4 linked regions of the Homo sapiens genome follow. The protein of the gene in region 1 purifies or fractionates together with the protein of each later gene. This does not show direct contact. Each region holds a gene or a part of one and is shown in the gene's direction. Other genes may lie near its edges.

Region 1 (5,443 bases):
TGGCCAGGCTGGTCTCGAACTCCTGACCTCAAATGATCTGCCCACCTTGGCCTCCCAAAGTGCTGAGATTACAGGCGTGAGCCACTGCACCCAGCTGAATCTCTATATTTGAATAAAAGTGACATCTTTGCAATATTGAATCCTCCAATCCATGACCATATTTTATTGTTTTATCTTTTATATGAAGCTAGATTTAAATTGCTGGTGTTTCTTTAGGATTTTAAAATCTTGTTTATAGTGCGTGAGACTAGTCTGAATTTTTCTTTATTCTTAATCTTCTTAAGTTTCGTTTCAAGGTTGTGCTATCATAAAGAGTTAGAGGATGGTCTTTTTCTGTGCCTTTGAAGAATTTGTGTAATTTCCTTTAAATATTTGGTAGAATTGGCCAGTAAAACTATCAGGCTGGGCTTTTTCTTTGTTTGTTTGTTTAGTTGGTTTTGGTTTTGTGTGGCGAGGAAGAGAGACTTCAAAATATACATTTAATTTCTTTAATAATTATATGACTATTTTGGTTTCTGTTTGTCAGTTTGATAAGTTATAGTCTTCTAATAATTTATTTCATCTAAGTTTTCTAATTTATTGGCATACATTTTTTCAGAATATTTTATTTTTTAATTCTGCAAGATCAGTAGTAATGCCGTTTTTCATTTCTGATTTTGGTTATTTATGCCTTCTCTATTTTTTAAAATTATTTGTCAATGAGGTTTATCAATTTTATTAGTCTTCCCAAAAATCTAGTTTTGGCTTGGTTAATCTATTGTATTATGTTTGTTTTTCTGTTTCATCAAATTTATTTTTACATTTTTATTATTTTCTCCTTTCTACTTTTTTTGCAATTGTTTTTACTATTTTCTAGTTTCTTGCAATGGATTTTCAGTCTACTAATTTTCAACCTTTTTTCTTTTCTAATATATATATATGCAGTTACAGCTATAAATTTGTATTGCTTTGGCTGCCTGTAGGTTTAAATATGCATTATTTTTCTTTTCATTCAGGTCAAAGCATTTTTTTTTTTTTTTAAGTTGGAGTTTCACTCTTGTTGCCCAGGCTGGAGTGCAATGGTGCAATCTTGGCTCACTGCAACCTCCGCCTCTTGGGTTCAAAAGATTCTCCTGCCTCAGCCTCCCGAGTAGCTGGGATTACAGGTGCCCACCACCACACCCGGCTAATTTTTTGTATTTTTAGTAGAGATGGGGTTTCGCCATGTTTGTCAGGCTGGTCTCAAACTCCTGACCTCAGATGATCCACCCTCCTCAGCCTCCCAAAGTGTTAGGATTACAGGCATGAGCCACTGCGCCCAGCCAGCATTTTTTATTTCTATTGTGATTTCTTTGACTTGTGGGTTATTTAGAAATATGTCTTTCTTCATTATTGGTCATGAAATGTTTATAGATATATTTTATTAATGATTTCAAGTTTAATTTTATTATGATCAGAGTATATGGTCTGTATGATATCAGTGTCAATATTTTTGAAATTTGTCAAAACTTCCTTTAAGACTTAGTGTATAATCAATTTTTATAATTGTTCTCCATGTGTATTTGTGTGTTTTTGACATGTGTATTCTCACCTTGTTTGGTATAATGTTCTATATAATTTATATCTAGTTTGTGTTAAACTTATTGTTCAAATCCTCTATATTAACTTAACATCCTTTTGTCCATTTGTTCTGTTAATTACTTAAAGGTGTTAAAGCTTTCCCTTATGATTGTGGATTTGTTTCAATTTTTCTTTATAGTTCTTGTCCGGTTTTGCATTATATGTATTGTGGGTATGTTATTAGGTGTACTTAACTTAGGTATTATTATATATTCCTGGTACAGATATTATAAAGTGATTCTCTTTATTTTTAGCAATGTTTTGGCTTTAAAGTCTGTTTTTTCTAATATTGCCGCAGCAGGTTTTCTTTGGAGAGGAGGTGTTAGGGTTAAAGTGGTTTATCTTTTTCATCTTCTTACATTGAACCATTCTTTTCTTTATGTTTTAGATACAATCGCTTAAGTTTTTTAAAATTCAGTCTATAAATCTTTATCCTGTAACTGGAATATTTATTTCATTTTTATTTAATGTAATTATCGATATATTTAGGTTTAAATCTTTCACCTTATTGTGTGCTATTTCTTAAACATATTTTTTAAATCTCCATATTTACTTTCTTTTGTATTGATCTTGTTTTTTTTAATTTATCTAATTTTTTCCTTTCTAGTTTAGGAACTACATTTGAGCCTTCTCCAAGGATTTCATCAACTGTGGAACAAAAATTTTTTTTTTTTAAATGGACAGTTGCGGCCGGGCGCGGTGGCTTACGCCTGTAATCCCAGCACTTTGGGAGGCTGAGGTGGGTGGATCACCTGAGGTCAGGAGTTCGAGACCAACCTGGCTAACATAGTGAAACCCCATCTCTACTAAAATACAAAAAAATTAGATGGGCGTGGTGGCTGGCGCCTGTAATCCCAGCTACTCGGGAGGCTGAGGCAGGCGAATCGCTTAAACCTGGGAGGCGGAGGTTGCAGTGAGCCAAAATCGTGCCACTGCACTCCAGCCTGGGCGATAGAGCAAGACTCCATCTCAAAAACAAAAACAAAAACAAAAACAAAAAGAATGGATAGTTGCATCTGTACTGACTCTTTTGCTTGTCACTGTTCTCTATAAAAGTACAGTATAACAATTTATATAGTATTTATATTATATTAGGTATTATAAGTAATCTAGCGATAAAGTATACAGGAGGATATTCATAGGTTTTACACAAATACTACACCATTTTATGTAAGGCTTTGAACATCTATGGATTTTGGGTATTTGCAGGGAGTCCTGGAACCAATCCTCCATGGATACCAAGGAATAAATGTATATACTTTTACTAGAAATTACAACGTACATCTTTAACTTAGAAGTACAGATAATATCAGTTCCTTAGACTATTTTAGTTCCATGTATGCCCTGCAACTTAAATGCTACTTTTATATAAATATTTCTAAACACCACAGACATTAGTATTATTGTTTTAGTAGAGTTACTGGTCATCTAGATTTACCCACTTTTTAGCATATTTTCATTTCTGTTCATTTCTTTTTGCATTTCCAACTTTTTATCTGGGATTAATTGTTATTTTTGAAGATCACCATTTAATATTTCTCTTACTGTGTGTTATTGACTGAAGGCAAATTCTCTCAGCTTTTGTTTGTCTAAAAATATTTTTATTTTACCTGTGGTCTTGAAAGATATTTTTGCAGCATATAGAACTTTAGGTTGATAGTAATTTGCTTTCTATACTTTGAATATTTTGTTCCATTGTCTTTAGGCTTTCGTTATTGCTGTTGAGAAGTCGTATTATAATCTTACTGTTTCTTTGCAAGAAACTCTTGTCTCTAGCTGCTTTTAGACATCTTTTCTCCTTCTTTTTCTCTCTTCTGGCTAGGTGTATTTTTCCTTTTATTTATTCTTCTCAGGATTTGTTGACCTTGAATTGTGGATGGATGTTTTTCTTCAATGTTTTGAAAATTCTCAGTCATTATCTATTCAAATTCATTTTCCGTCTTCTTCTGGAATTCTAAGTAAATGTATATTGTACCCTTTTCTAACTATATCTTCTGTATTTCTTAACTTTTCTTCTATATTTTTTACTTTCCTTGTTTCTTTTTTACATAGTTTCTTCAGATCTGTTTTCCAATTTATATCTTTCTTGAACTGGGCCTAATATGAAGCTAAACTCAATTATTAAATTCTTGTGGACATTATTTTAAAATTATAGAATATTCATTAAAAAACCTATATGTTGCTTTTTATAGTTTCCAATTGTCTGCTAAATTTTCAAGCTTTATTTTTATGCCTTTGAACAAAATAACTATAGTTTTGTAGACTACATTTGCTCATTCCCTCATTACATGTCCTTTTGGATGTTTCTGTTGCCTGTTGTTTTTGCTGTTTCTTCCTCATGCTGCATATGTCCTCATGTGCTTGGTAATCTTTGATTGGTGGACATTGTATTTGAAACATTATTTATAGAAATTATTTGAAGCTAGGGATGATGTTATCTTCCTCCAGATATTTTCATTTGCTCTTCTAAGCCGCTGGGGGCACTAACTTTCCAAGATTATCTTTATCCAATTTTAGAGCTTAAGGTTTTCTGTGAGCTACTCGAGACTGGAGGCCAGTCTGTAGTTCATGCAAGGGCTGCTTTATTTTAGGATTACCTGTGTTCCTAGGGTGGAGCTCTGACGATCCCAGCCAAAAGTACCAGAGTCCTTATACTTAGCAGGTCTTGGCATTGAAATTTTAATCCAAGCTTTGTGAGTTTATATTCTGGTATGCAAATACTCCCAAAGCAAATGTGGTCCTGAGTTCAGGACTCACCTCTCTAGATTTCCATCTTTGCCCAATTCTTGTCCTATAGTTACTTACTATCTTGTTTGCTTTATGGTACTTTTCAAGTTTTTTTTTTTTTTCCTATTGGTTTGTTTTGTGATTTGATTTTTGTTCAACTTTTGAAGTAGCCATTAGTGGGAAGGTTAGTCTGAATCACCTAGCCTGCTGTTTTCAGAAGCAGAAACACCTGACTTTATGTTCTTCATATATGGTTTTACCATCCTGTTCCCTCTGTTTGATTTTAGAGAGATTCCCTAGTTGCCCTATCCAATGTAGTAGCTCCTAACTACATGTGACTGTTGAGCACTTAAAATGTAGCCAGTTTGAACTGAGATGTGCTGTGAATGTAAAATATATACCAGATTTCTAAGACTTACTACAAATAAAACAATGTAAAAGATTTTAAGTTTTATAATTGCATATTAAAATAGTATTTTAGCTATATTAGGTTAAATAAAATATTATTAAAATTAATTTCCCTTGTTTTTACTTTTTTAATGTAATTTAAAAAATTTTTAAATTACATATGTGGCTTGTGTGTGTGATTTGCATTATGTTTGTGTTGGATGGTGTTTGCTATGTAATAAAGTAGTTAGAACACAAGATCTGTGGTCTGGATTTGATTCTTGCCTATACTATTTACTAGCAGTGTAATCCTGGGCTACTTTTTGAACTTCTTGCTTTAATTTTCTCTTCTATAAAATGAGAATAATAGTAATATCCATTTCAAAGATATATTGTGAGGGGAAGATAAAAGACGTAAAGCTGTTAGCACAATCGATAACTTTAAGTGTTGATTAAAATTTAGCCACTATTTATGTTTTTGTTATCATTGTTGCTGTTATTATAGTATCAGATTTTATACTTCAGTGGGTTTTTTCTTTCTCTCCCTCAAAATTTTCCACATTACTCATAGTAATAGAGTTCTTAGCTGGATACTGTAATTTGACTGGGGACAGACATATGTACAAATTACATAAGTGAGGAAGGTGTCACAAACAAATGCTCATTAAGTTTGGCTGTAGAAAATTTTTAATGCTTCTCCAAGATAATATTACCTAAAATATTTCTGTAG
Region 2 (4,676 bases), on another chromosome or scaffold:
GGCAGGGCTGATTCTACTTTCTGAGGTAGATGGCAAGCCCCACTTGTTTGGTGACTTCCTGATAGTGTGGAATAGTTAACGTATCTTTGTCCTGAAGTTTGGGACCCTGATGACCAATTCTAGGGCAAACATCCTGTTACAAAGGCAAGAAATTAATGAGTTAAATGATGAGTTTATTATAAAATTATGGTCAACACCCTACAATTATATGTTATAATATTTTGTATAATATGTAGAGCAATACTAATCAAACAAATAGTTATACTAGTAACTTTACCTCCTTCTCCTTTCCATCTTACCTCTGCCTAAATGTCCCTGGTCAGAAGTCCTTAGTCACCGACGGGATTTAACTCCAAACTCCTTTTTTGACATTGATAATGCTCCAGTCCTTATTTCTGTACCCAGACCCTCTGCTCCCCCAGGTCAGGACACTTGGGCCTGCTGAGTCCAGCTCACACACAACTCTGCCTTTGGTCTGACTCTGTTTTTTGTCTGAAATGCCTACCTACTTTCTGTTTGTCTAACTCCAGGCTTTCCTGTAGGTTTGCCTTTCAAGCCACTGTGCACTATAAGGCCTTCCAGAACTGCTCTTCCTCTGGATTTCTTAGCACCCACATTTCACCATTAGCCTAAGCCGTCTTCTCTTTCAGCGTTCTCTTTTTCTTCCCGTACTCTGTTACCTTACTAAATTATACATCTCTCAAGGACAATAACACTTTTCTTAAGCTTCTCCGTAGTGTTATGCTTGTTCAGTGCATATATGTTTGCTGATGGCAAAGAATAATATTTTGGAAATAATTTCATGATTTAAAAATCTAAAAGATATTAAGATATACTGAAAAATAAGTATTTGATTATTTAAAATGTTACAAAAGAGGAAGGTTTCCTACTCCCTCTCTGCATCCACATTTTCATGGAACAAAGGCCTAGGTATAAGCTGATTTAGATTTGCCCCCATCTAGAAATTTAATCAAAGTCTTAGAGCTGGAGAGAACATCAGGGTTACTGAGTCTCCCTCTCTGCCTTAGGGTTCAATACAAAATTTAACACTGTTTGATTTGGAACTAGGGAATGGTTTGGGGACAGTAAATGTTGAGGCTAATTAGGTGATTTAGATAATCCAGAGTCTGTGTAAAATTAAAATCCTATTTGTAGTGAGACTCTGAACTAGCTTTCTCAGCCTTTTGCTCTACCTCCTGCACAAGAATATGACTCAGAGCTGGGAGTAATGGCATGCTTAGCCTTGGATAGCTGTCCTCCTCTGCTTTCAGGATCCATTTTCATTACTCTATCATCTTCCTCTTTCTTTCTTTTCTTTTCCCTTGTTCCCCTAATGTATCAATTGGAAAGTATCTAGCATTTCATGGTACAATAGAAAAGGAAGTGGACTAAAAGGAAACCTAGATTCTATTCCCATCTTTTTCACCAATTATGTGATCTCAACCACCACCACACCACTCTGGGCTTATTTCTTTGTTGATAGAAGTGGGGATGAAATTAGGTAATCATATTAATGTCACTGGTTTTTGTATAGACCATTATATGTAACCGTTCACTTAGTTATTGGCGTACCCACCACATTGTATCGTGTGAAGTATAAACACTTTTTTTCTTTCTTTTTTTCATAAGGTTATAGCTCAGCAAGTGTCAGATAAACACTTGGAAGAGGGTCGGCTTTATCCTCCTTTGAATACCATTAGAGATGTTTCTCTGAAAATTGCAGAAAAGGTAAAACCACTCTTGTTCAAGCTTCATTATTTTTCCTTCCTTTTCTTGCTAAATATGCATTTTTAAATATTAAAAATCTGCTTCCTTGAAATGTATATCTGTATCAACTTACTATGTCAGAAGTCAGAGAAATGAGGCACACTGACACTGTAGAGCTTAGGAGCTACATTTGCTTCTCAGAGAAGAATGGAAGTATTGGGCCGAATAATTAATTTCCCTCTCTATCGTTCTTTTTTTCTCCTAAAATTTAAATAATTCATTAGGGCTTCCTGTCAGCCAGATTTCTCCCATTTCACCTTTTTAAAGTTGTTCTTTTCTATATCACATTAGTGATAATTAACCAAAATATTACAGATATGTTAGAGTAACATTTAGACCTTGAACCACCTTCCATATCCATGTCACTATGATGTGTGGCATCATAAATGACAGATCACAACTGATAATACTGGGCGGAAGGCAAAATAAAGAGGTCAAAGAACTTGAAAGCTGTTTGGGTGGCAGATGAGCTACTGAAGGAGTTAGCCAAGAAGAACCCAAAGGCAGAGAAATTTTCTGTAACTAAACTGGAAGATAAGTGGACTTTTTTTGCAGTGTAATTGTATTAGTTTTCTTGGGCTGGGATAACTACATACCACGGTTATGTAGTAACTGTTTTTAAATATTCAAGCCACAGACTGTGTGGCTTAAACAACAGAAAACTATTTTCCCATAATTCTGGGAGCTAGAAGTCTAAGATAAAGATGTTTGCAGGTTTGGTTTCCTCTGAGGCCTCTCTCCTTGGCTGGCAGATGGCTGCCCTCTTTCTGTGTCCCCATATGGCCTTTTCTCTGTGTGTGTACACGCTTGTGTGTCCAAATTTCCTCTTCTCTTAAGGACACCTATCAAATTGGATTATAGACCATTCTAACCGTCTCATTTTAACTTAATTATCTCCTTAAAGGCCTATTTCTAAATACACTCACATTCTGAGGTACTAGTGGTTAGGGCTTCAACACTGAATTTGGGGTGGGAGGAACACAGTTTAGCCATGACAGTAGTTATATGTTTAAATTGGGGTTTCTCTACTTCAGCGTTGTGGACATTTTGGGTCAATAACCATCATGCGGCTGTCCCAGGCATTGTACAATCTTCAGCAGCATTCCTGGCCTCTGCCCACTAGATGTCAGTAGCATCTGCTCAGTTGTATCAACCAAAGCTGTTTCCAGACATTGTCAAGTATCCCCTTGGGGGCCAAATTGCTCCAGATTGAAAATCACTAGCTTAAGCTATTAGCAAGTTATCTAAACAACACCATTTAAGAGTCACATATCATTATTTATCTCGTTGACTGAAGGCAGTCTCTTAAAAAAAGAAGTAATTCTCTAAAAACCTTTACATAATAATCTGCTTGGTTATCTATGAAAAAGTATGTTCATATATTCTACTAATATGTATCTGCTAGTTTTTAAGTAGTTTAAACTATTAATATACTGAATAGCATATTATCATTTTAAGTTCATTTTGGAGATTTAAATGAAAAAGAGTTAGCTTATGATTAGAGGGGAAAAAAAGCAGGGGACAGCAGGGGAGTGCCAAAAGATTCAGATATCACACCTAGAATAATGGAAGAATACAGAGTGCATACACAGAAATTGAGAAACTAGAACAAAGAACCAACTTCAGAGAGGGAGATCATGTAAGTGGACTGCAAGTTTGAGGTATCAATGGCACATTCAAATGTACCATTTTATCAAGTAGATAGAAATGACTGAAACTTAAAGAGAGGCTAGATAAAAGACCTGGGCATCTTCTGCATGTGGTAACTGGTGAATATCTAGGAGTGGGTGAGGTTGCCAAGAAAGCAAGTATAGAAAGGAAATAAAAATGAGAATAGAATATAGTTTATTATTCTGTCTAGAAGACAGAAGAAAGATGCCAGTTAAGAAGAGAAGTGGTCAGGATTTTAAGAGACTCCAAACTGAGCAGCATGTCAATAATTAGGAAAGAGACAATTTCAGAATGGGAGTGGAAATTGTGACCAACACAGCCAAATCCTGGAGAGAAAAACAGATGCAGACTTTTATTTGGTACTTAACAAGTTATCAGAGACTTTTACAAAAGAAATTTCAAGATGTACAGGAGGTTCAGAAGGCAGAGAATTAGGAAAGCAATAAAATATAAGCCACTCTGTCAGAGAGTTTGGCATTGACAGGACAGAGAGAGTGAAGATTTCATTGGGAGAAGGGATTATTTCTATGGTATAACTGGGAGCAGAAAGAGGAGATGAATTTCCACATAGTCTATGTCAGTAATGAAACAATGTGTTTTATTATAAAATTAACATAGCCATCTTAAGTAGGCATGAGGGATCTTTTTGGGGTGATGGAAATATTCTAAAACTGAATGTGGTAATATTGTTGCACAGCTCAGTAAATTTACAAAAATAATTTAGTTGTACACTTAAAATGCTTGAATTTTGTGTGAATTATATCTCAATAAATCTGTTTAAAAAGTAATACTACCATATTATGGGCACTTTGGAAAACAAATAGAGAAAAGGAAAATAACCAATATCCTATTTTTCTAATATAAGTATTATTTTTTTTCCTGTGTTTGTTTTGAGTCTTTCGTTTGTTTATTTTCTAACATTATTATAATTATGAAATATACATATTGTTTCCTGCTTTTTCATAGACATTTCATAATACAGCACAGTATTCATAACCTTAATTGTTCATAAATGCATAGTTTTACATTGAGATGAGATAATCATTCTGATATTCTTTGAAATCAGACTTATCAAAATAAGTCAGTCATATAAATATTGTTTTAAGAACTGATGTGAATTCGGCTGGGCACGGTGGCTCACACCTGTAATCCCAGCACTTCGGGAGGCCAAGGCAGGTGGATCACCTCAGGTCAGGAGTTTGAGACCAGACTGGCCAACATGGCGAAACCCCTTCTCT
Region 3 (3,536 bases), on another chromosome or scaffold:
CACAAAGAGGTGATTGCTTAGACAATTTTTAAAGTGACTATAGTATAAACTTTTAAAAGAATAATATGAAAATGACTGTGGAATGCAGTGTAAAGCAGAAGCAAACGGCCCTGAATAACTTACTTGGAAGTAATTTATATCAACTTAAGCTGTTAGCTCATTGTATAACTTTTCTTATGTGACCCTCACCAATATCCCTAAGTAATGCCTTTGGAAGCTTCAGAGTAGAAGATGCTTCCTACTGTGTTGGCTCTGAGGAGATAGTAGGATTAGATAGGATCCAGATTAGGAAATGATCCAGTTAGTTTATCTGAAAGGTTAACTCCCAGGACTCCAGGTCTTTGAATCCAGCCAGTAGAGTGAATGCTTCCAATTAAGCTGTAGGTGTTACCCTGCACTTACGGAACTGATCAAACAGGTGACTCCAACAGGAGGTTGCAGTACTGTAAACGTCACCGCAAGGCAAGGGATGCTTAAAGTCCTGGGTTCTGGACTTTAAAAGCTACATTGGCCCTGGAGGGAGGGACCCTTGGCATTGCTTTGATCAGGTAGTGAGGGAAGACAGGGTTCTGGGGTGGGGGTGTATTTATATATAATTTAGGTTTTGTTTGTACAGCATACTGTGTCTTGTAATGACACATCCTTGTCCTGCTTTCCTTTTTTGAGTTTTTTTTTTTTTTTTACACAACATGCAGAGGCACTGAAGTGACCATGTCATTTTCAAGTGTCAAGAATGTAGACAGTGTTTCAGTACCAAAGTCTAAAATAAACTAAAATTATGAATTTTTTATAGGTGATACATTTGGATTCTTCTCAACTTTGAAACTGTTTAGCACAGTTCCATTGTATTATATAAGAAGACACTGTATCCAACAAGACTGGCTGTACATTGAAAAGCTTTATGTACCAGCCAACTTATTTAACCATATTCAGCCTGTTCCGTGGGGGCTGTTCTGTGGTTCCAGGTATTTTCAAGCCTGTGATTAACTTCTCATGGCTTGTCACTTAAAAGTCCCTAAATTTGAGAGACTTAAAGGGCACCTTGAAATACATTTGTGGAGTTTTGATCCAACTTATGGTGGAAGAGCCCCATAGGAAGACTGTTTTGAGTGGCCAACCATTCCCACCCACTGCATAATTCAGCAGAAACTAGAGGAGCAGGGCGTGTACTGATTGGAATTGACACGCTTATTCTGTCTACCTATCAGCTAACTCATTAGCAGCCAAGCCCTTAGGCAGCTTAGTGTGAAAATACAATGTTAACTGTTTGTTTCTCTGTGAGGTTAGTGGGAACCGCTTGGATAAGCCTATTGGGATTAATCTAAATGATGTGATGATTTGATTCAGGTATAGCCCAAATTAGTAAGGGGCTTTAGCTGTAAACTGAAAACAATATTCACACCCTCTCCTGGGCCTGTAAGGTCTAAGGTGAGAATTTCAGGATGGAAAATGCAATGTAAAGCTTCCACAGGAAAGTATTCGGGTATGTAAGGTGTTATTTCTGACCAGAGCCCTAGTTCTGCAATAACCAAAACCAAGGAGTATAAATAACAATCAGGCTCTGGGGGAATAGAAAGCAGGCTTTAGACAATCTGTCCATTTCTACAGTAAAATTGGAGTGAGTGTGTATATCTACTTAAAACTTAATAGAAGTGACTTCTACTTTTTGGGCTATTCCAGAAGTATTTTAAAATTATTATTTAAAATTTTGAAGCCCCATTTCAAATCTTGCCGACCTTAGTTCAAAGCCCCCTGAGAGATCACTTTTAGAATTGAGGATTTGTTAAAATGGCAAGTCATTTCATTTGTGTTAAAAAGAAAATACCCAAAAGGAAGGAGGGAGCCCTGTTTGCCTTGAGATAAACGGCCTTGGCATTTTCTGGCATTAATGTAGAAATAATGTTCCTATGATGACATATTTTCAAAGAAACACTTTCTTATTTACTGTGTGGTGTAAAATGTTGCTAAATGTGTTGTTACATTATGTCACTGCTGAAAGTAATTTGCACTATAATAAAGGAATTTTCTACAAAACAGTTTCCAGTTTATAACATGCTACATTTGGCGCCAGGTATAGAGTACTTAGCATAGACCACGTGGCATAGCAGTGATTCCTCACTTTCACACTTATGCCTCAAGATAACTTTTTCCTGCATTCCCCACACTGATAAACAGAAGAAAAGTCTCTTGGGGCCCTCAGAGACCTAATAACTTACATTGTGAATGGTAAATGCAGTGGGTTCTTTTAAAATATAATTTGCATACAGCAAATTCACTCTTTTGGTATAAAGTTCTGAGTTTTAACATATACATATAGTCATGTAACTACCATCTTAATCAGAATGCGGGATCATTTCATCATCTCAAAAAATTCCTTTGTGCTACTCCTTTGCAGATAAATTCGTCCCCCGTTCCTAACCCTAATTAGGCGTCCACAGATCCATTCTCCCTCCCCATAGTTTTGCATTTTTCTGAATGTCATAAAAACAATCGTATAACATGTAATCTTTTAGAGCTGGCTTCTCAATTTGCATAATGCATTTGAGAGTCATTCATGTGTATATCAATAGTTTTTATTGCATTCCATTGCATAGATATACTACAGTTAATCCATTCAGATGTTGAAAGATGCAGTGGGTTTTTAATCAGCAAATATAATCTTAGCACAATGTAGATACAAAAACAAGATTGCATTTCTCTTGCCTTCTCTTTCCTGTGGTTTGAATGATTAGGGAAGAAATTTAATGTCTTGGCTATTCAGCCTACAGATAAAACTGTATGGCTTATAGAAGTTTGCCCAGCTTCAATCATTGCTGGGTGACAGATTTACTCACATGCTAGATCTAGGGCCCTATTTATACCTTAATTTTATTGATCCCATTTTTTTTTAGGGTGCAGCATTGGGAGGCTGGTTTGCTGGTTCCTCTGTCACAGCTTTTGCAGTTAAGTACTGGCAGATGAGGCCTGTTAAGGTAGGGACAACTTGCTGAGGCTGTTGGACAAAAGATAGGAGAGCTTCCCTTGCTCGCTAGCCTGGCTGGGAATGCCCCTTAGGGGATGTCACATTTTACTTACGTTATGACAGCATTTTGGATTAGATGGCCTAAAAAATATATCCATAATTGGAGCTTTGAGTGCCACGATTCCTTAAGGCCTTCATTCATTCAACAGGTATTTATTGAGCTGTGTCACTTGGAGTATAAAAGACAAAGGTCTCTGGTGGCTTTAAACTTCAGTGTGATTAACAGGCAGATAGCTCTCCCCTTCCCCGAGTCCCCAGGAGATTTCTGTTTCACCAGGTCTGGAGTAGGGCCCAGAGGTTTGTATTTTCAAAACCACCCTGGGCCAGGTGTGGTGGCTCATGCCTGTAATCCCTGTACTTTGGGAGGCCAAGGCCAGAGGATCATGTGAGACCAGGAATTTGAGACCAGCCTTAGCAACTTAGGGGGACCCCATCTCAATTAAAAAAAAAAGGTGTGGCAACATATGCCTACAGTCCCAGCTACTCAAGAGGCTGATCAGGGAAAATCGATGGA
Region 4 (4,676 bases), on another chromosome or scaffold:
TTTGCATATTGCAATGTGTATAAAAGGAATTTCAGATGTTAAAACGCCTAGATATGTTATACCTTCAGATCAATAATTTTAAAAGCAATTTTAACCCCCCCAAAAAACTTTGCCTAGAAAAATTAGTTACAAAGCCTAGGCAATATAGGTCTTGGTCTTGGTCTTAGGTATTTGTTTATGGCAATGCTCTTCCTATTTTAGGAAATGATTAATACAGGAGCATTTCAATGCAATAAAATCATTTTGACAAAGCCTGCTATAGTTTATCAAAATAGGACATGATGTATGCCAAAGTGTATTTACATTCAGAAAATATAAAGAAACATTTTATTTAAATGAAGCCTTAAGAATTTGAGGGCTAACTTTTAACTTTGGCCTATGTAAGATGTGTACCAATAGGACATGGTAAAGCATGGAGTAAAGTCTCCAAATATTATCAAATCAATCTCTCAGAAATAAAAGTGTGTTCAGACTCTTAAGAAAATTTACCCTGGGGCTTAGACAAGTCTCTGTGAGATTGATTGGTCCAGGGTTCCGGTGGGACCAGAGTGGAATTGTACCTTTGTACTGTAGACTTTGCAGCTGCAGTTGTGTACCTAACTGAAATTGCACTCTTATTGACCTCCTCTCAGTCATATGGACTGAATGACTCTCTGCTTTTAAACTTAGTAGTCTTTGATGCAACAATTTTGCTGTTGTTAAGACATATATTTATTAAGACTCTTTCTGTGCATTCCTTGCTATGGGTTTAGGGACAGAGTTCACCCCAGTGTCTTGCCCTTTTCCCATGCCTACCTGTGTCCATGAAGTCTCTCCCAATCTTTTCCTATTTTGCTTTAACAAATTGGGAAATGGCAACAAACAATTAGAAAGTGAAAACAAATAGAAAAAATGAGGGTATACTCACAGTTTTGCTGCTCCACACAGGCTGCAAATAATGACACTTTATTTTTCTAACTTCTAGCTTAGCCCTCCCACCAGGACAGGGGATGGACAGGGAAACATCATCTCAGTCATTTTTTTAGTGAATAATTTTATCTTCTTTGGGAATTCGGGTTTATACAATTCAGGAAAATTGGTATTCCCAGTGTATTGGTATATGGTAGTGACTAGGAGGAAACGCTCATCATAGAAATTCCTTGATCAATCCAGAGAATGGTGACTCTTATTTTCAACACCTGCTCACTCTGCCCAAACTCAGCCACCAGGACCATTGCCAAGTGGCCATGGTACCTGGCCCCAGCACTCAGGCTTAATCTATATAGCCTCCACCGCAGAGGTCCTGCCACTTCCAGGTATGACCTGGAAACCGAGTTTTCTACCTTTCTGTCTCATGGTATCAGGAATCCCACTGCTTCTGGGATTGGGCAGCTCTCTTAATCTTCAACCTTAGAGCCTCTTCAACACAGGTTACCCAGGGCCCCAGAGCAGACTATCTCATCAAAACACACCAGTGTGTTGGTTAATAATGCAGATACCTGGGCCCTGCCCCAGACCCACAGAATCAGAATCAATGGAGTTGTGTCCCAGGAGTTTGCATTTCACTAAGTTCATCAGTAGATTCCTGTGCATATTCAGACTTAAGAAACATCAGGCCTTAGACTTTTGAAAAACCACATCTTTAAATTCTGTAGCAGTGAAAGTCCAGAGCTCTCACACAAGCTCTGCTCTTGTCTTAAAGAAGGGAAAGAAAAATATATCTCACTTTTACCAGTGAGCTTACAACTGAGGAAACAAGACAAAACTTATTCCTCAGTCAGATTACTCGGCCCCACAAATGTTGAGTAGAAATTGGTAAAGTATCAAAGATCAATAAGATGAAAGAAGGCAACACACACACACACACACACACACACACACACACACACACACCCATGATGATGAGCAGTTTTTATTCAAATGGAAGAGCCTTGGTTGTGGAGGGGCTTGCCAAAGGCCAGAATCTAAGTGGGTCCTGCCAAATGGCAACATGATGTTGCCCATGAATAGATCCCACTGGGCTATATAAGCCTTCAGTTAAGGTTGATAACACAAGAAATTAATTCAAACCAAATTTACTTTCTTTCCATCTTTTCTTTTCCAGATTGCTATTTACCTCACTGATATTTTAAAGAAAGTTTTAAGCAACTATTAATGGACATTCACTAGAATACAAACATTCAATGTTAAGTATCTGTACTAGTGAGGGATTAAAAAACACAGGGATTATTTAAATTCAAAAGTAATTTAAAAACCACACACATTGCATGCATCAACAACTCTAGCTTTGATTTAGTGCTGTTAAAAGAAATATAAAAGAATTAATTTAGCTTTATTAATCTTACTTTAAGGAAAAAAATATATAAATATACACACACATACTTTGAAGTCTCAAATATCCAGATTGATTAATTATAAACTCAAATTTTTCCAGTAGCTAAGAGAGGTAGAAGTGAAAAAATGTCTTAATTAACTGCTTTATTTTAATATTTCAACTTAATTTTGTATTCTATTCCATTACATAATATGCCTGTGTCTTAATATAAAAATCATGGAGAAAATACTTCAGTAAGATGCACTACATTTCTATGATGCCTTCGCAGATGGTTCTCTGACATATACCTGATATGGAAAGCCTCACATCATTAAAATAACAGGGCTAACTACCAGCCCTCCACTTCAATTTTGGAGGCATCCCTACAACAGGCAAACATTCAATGTGATGTGCTCATTAATTTCTCTAATTATAATGTTATTAAATTATAATGATAATGTCATCCCTAGAAATGATGGCTTCTGATAGAGTTGTCTTGTTTTTCTTTGCAGGGAACATTCCAATATCTATCTTCAAAATGGCCCAGATAGAATTGGGAGACTATATAAGAAGGCCCTTTATCTTCAGTACACAGATGAAACCTTTAGGACAACTATAGAAAAACCGGTCTGGCTTGGGTTTTTAGGCCCTATTATCAAAGCTGAAACTGGAGATAAAGTTTATGTACACTTAAAAAACCTTGCCTCTAGGCCCTACACCTTTCATTCACATGGAATAACTTACTATAAGGAACATGAGGGTAAGTTCAGCTCATGTAGCTGGAATTTCCTCTTACTTTTCAGTAGAAGTGCCTTTTAGCTTCTAAAATTGTGGACTTCTCTCCTGGATAAGACATATAACTGCCATTCAGCTCTTAACTATTTTTTTTTTATTTTTTTTTAATTTTTTTTGACTTCTGTCACCCAGGCTGGAGTGCAGTGGCACGACCTCGGATCACTGCAAGCACCGCATCCGGGGTTCAAGCCATTCTCCTGCCTCAGCCTCCCGAGTAGCTGGGACTACAGGCGCCCACTACCATGCCTGGCAAACTTTTTTATTTTTATTTTTTTTTTGCATTTTTAGTAGAGACGGGGTTTCACCGTGTTAGCCAGGATGGTCTTGATCTCCTGACCTCCTGATCTGCCCGCCTCAGCCTCCCAAAGTGCTGGGATTACAGGCGTGAGTCACTGCACCCGGCCAACTATTTTATTAATAGGTACTTTGTTTCCATATAATAATGGCATGTTTCTCTTGGTTGTGCTCTTTCGTGGAAAGTGTGAATGTGAGAGAATTTCTAGGTGGACTCAGTGAGAGTCAGAGAGAGCTGGAGCTTCTTTCCCAGAGCCCAGTCCTTTCTGGCCAAATAGAATAAGAGAAATGGACAAAGTGCATCAGAGCCTAGAAGAGGCAAAATCCAGAGGGAAGAGAAAGAAGGACTCAAGATGTGGATTGCCTTATCTTTGAAGTTCCTACATGTAAACATACTGTGCTGTTGTTACCTCCCATCCTAACTTTATATAAACTCTGCCCCAGCTAAGGTGGCATAAGTAGTCTCATGTCAGTCAAATGGTACATATGCCTGGATGACTGTAGTCACATATGAGACACAATTAACTGAAAAAGTCATTTGAATGTAGGACTTGGAAGCCTTGAAAATAGTACCTGAAAAACAAAGATAAGGTTTGGTGCCTGTGATCTCATTCTTAGTCCTTAACAATGATGGTAAAAAAGGTGGTATTTTGTAGTGATGAAAAGCAAGGGCTTTGAAATTAATAGACAAAGGTCTGAGCCCCAGCCTTGCCTTTCACTGTTTGAGTGACCTTGGACAAATTACTTAAGTTCTTTCAGCTTCAGTTTCCTCATCTATAAAATAGAGATAATAAGAATACATAGTAATACCTCAATAACTATCAGCTGCTATCATAAGCAAAAATGCTGAAGTCATGCTACAGTTCATTGAAATTATAATGATCGAATAGGGAAATTAATTTAAAATTAGATTTGATTCATTATTAGTTGTCTTATTAAAAGAGATATTGGTTTAGAAAGTGAATGTGTTGACTTTTTTTGTTTTTGTTGTTGTTTAGGGATAAATTACATTCATAGCATAAAAGGCTGACTGCCATCCTATTTCTTTTTAATGATTTCATGGCTTACTAGGGAATTACCATTCATTTTAAAGGTATGGTAATGGAACTGTGGTTTTGTTAGAAGAAAAAAAGGGTTCCTATCTTTTAGAGATACATACTCAAGTATTTATGAATGGAATATGATGTCTGAGACGTGCTTTAAAATAATTTGATGATACTGGGGATAAGAGTGTGTGGGGGTACAGATGAAACAAGGTTGGCCTTGAGTCGATCATTGTTAAAGCTGGTTTGAT

Evidence for each region.
Region 2: the proteins of STX17 (region 1) and ME1 purify together in Homo sapiens (affinity purification with mass spectrometry; one large-scale study listed by BioGRID and IntAct). This does not show direct contact.
Region 3: the proteins of STX17 (region 1) and LGALSL purify together in Homo sapiens (affinity purification with mass spectrometry; one large-scale study listed by BioGRID and IntAct). This does not show direct contact.
Region 4: the proteins of STX17 (region 1) and CP purify together in Homo sapiens (affinity purification with mass spectrometry; one large-scale study listed by BioGRID and IntAct). This does not show direct contact.

Annotation. Positions count from the first base shown.
Region 1 is NC_000009.12:99,943,513-99,948,955, forward strand, and holds part of STX17 (syntaxin-17), read left to right. Parts: intron 1-5,443. UniProt on the Homo sapiens protein: SNAREs, soluble N-ethylmaleimide-sensitive factor-attachment protein receptors, are essential proteins for fusion of cellular membranes.
Region 2 is NC_000006.12:83,213,550-83,218,225, reverse strand, and holds part of ME1 (NADP-dependent malic enzyme), read left to right. Parts: intron 1-1,629; coding exon 1,630-1,728; intron 1,729-4,676. UniProt on the Homo sapiens protein: Catalyzes the oxidative decarboxylation of (S)-malate in the presence of NADP(+) and divalent metal ions, and decarboxylation of oxaloacetate.
Region 3 is NC_000002.12:64,459,348-64,462,883, forward strand, and holds the end of LGALSL (galectin-related protein), read left to right. Parts: 3' UTR 1-2,034; downstream 2,035-3,536. UniProt on the Homo sapiens protein: Does not bind lactose, and may not bind carbohydrates.
Region 4 is NC_000003.12:149,210,828-149,215,503, reverse strand, and holds part of CP (ceruloplasmin precursor), read left to right. Parts: intron 1-2,805; coding exon 2,806-3,053; intron 3,054-4,676. UniProt on the Homo sapiens protein: Multifunctional blue, copper-binding (6-7 atoms per molecule) glycoprotein. It has ferroxidase activity oxidizing Fe(2+) to Fe(3+) without releasing radical oxygen species. It is involved in iron transport across the cell membrane.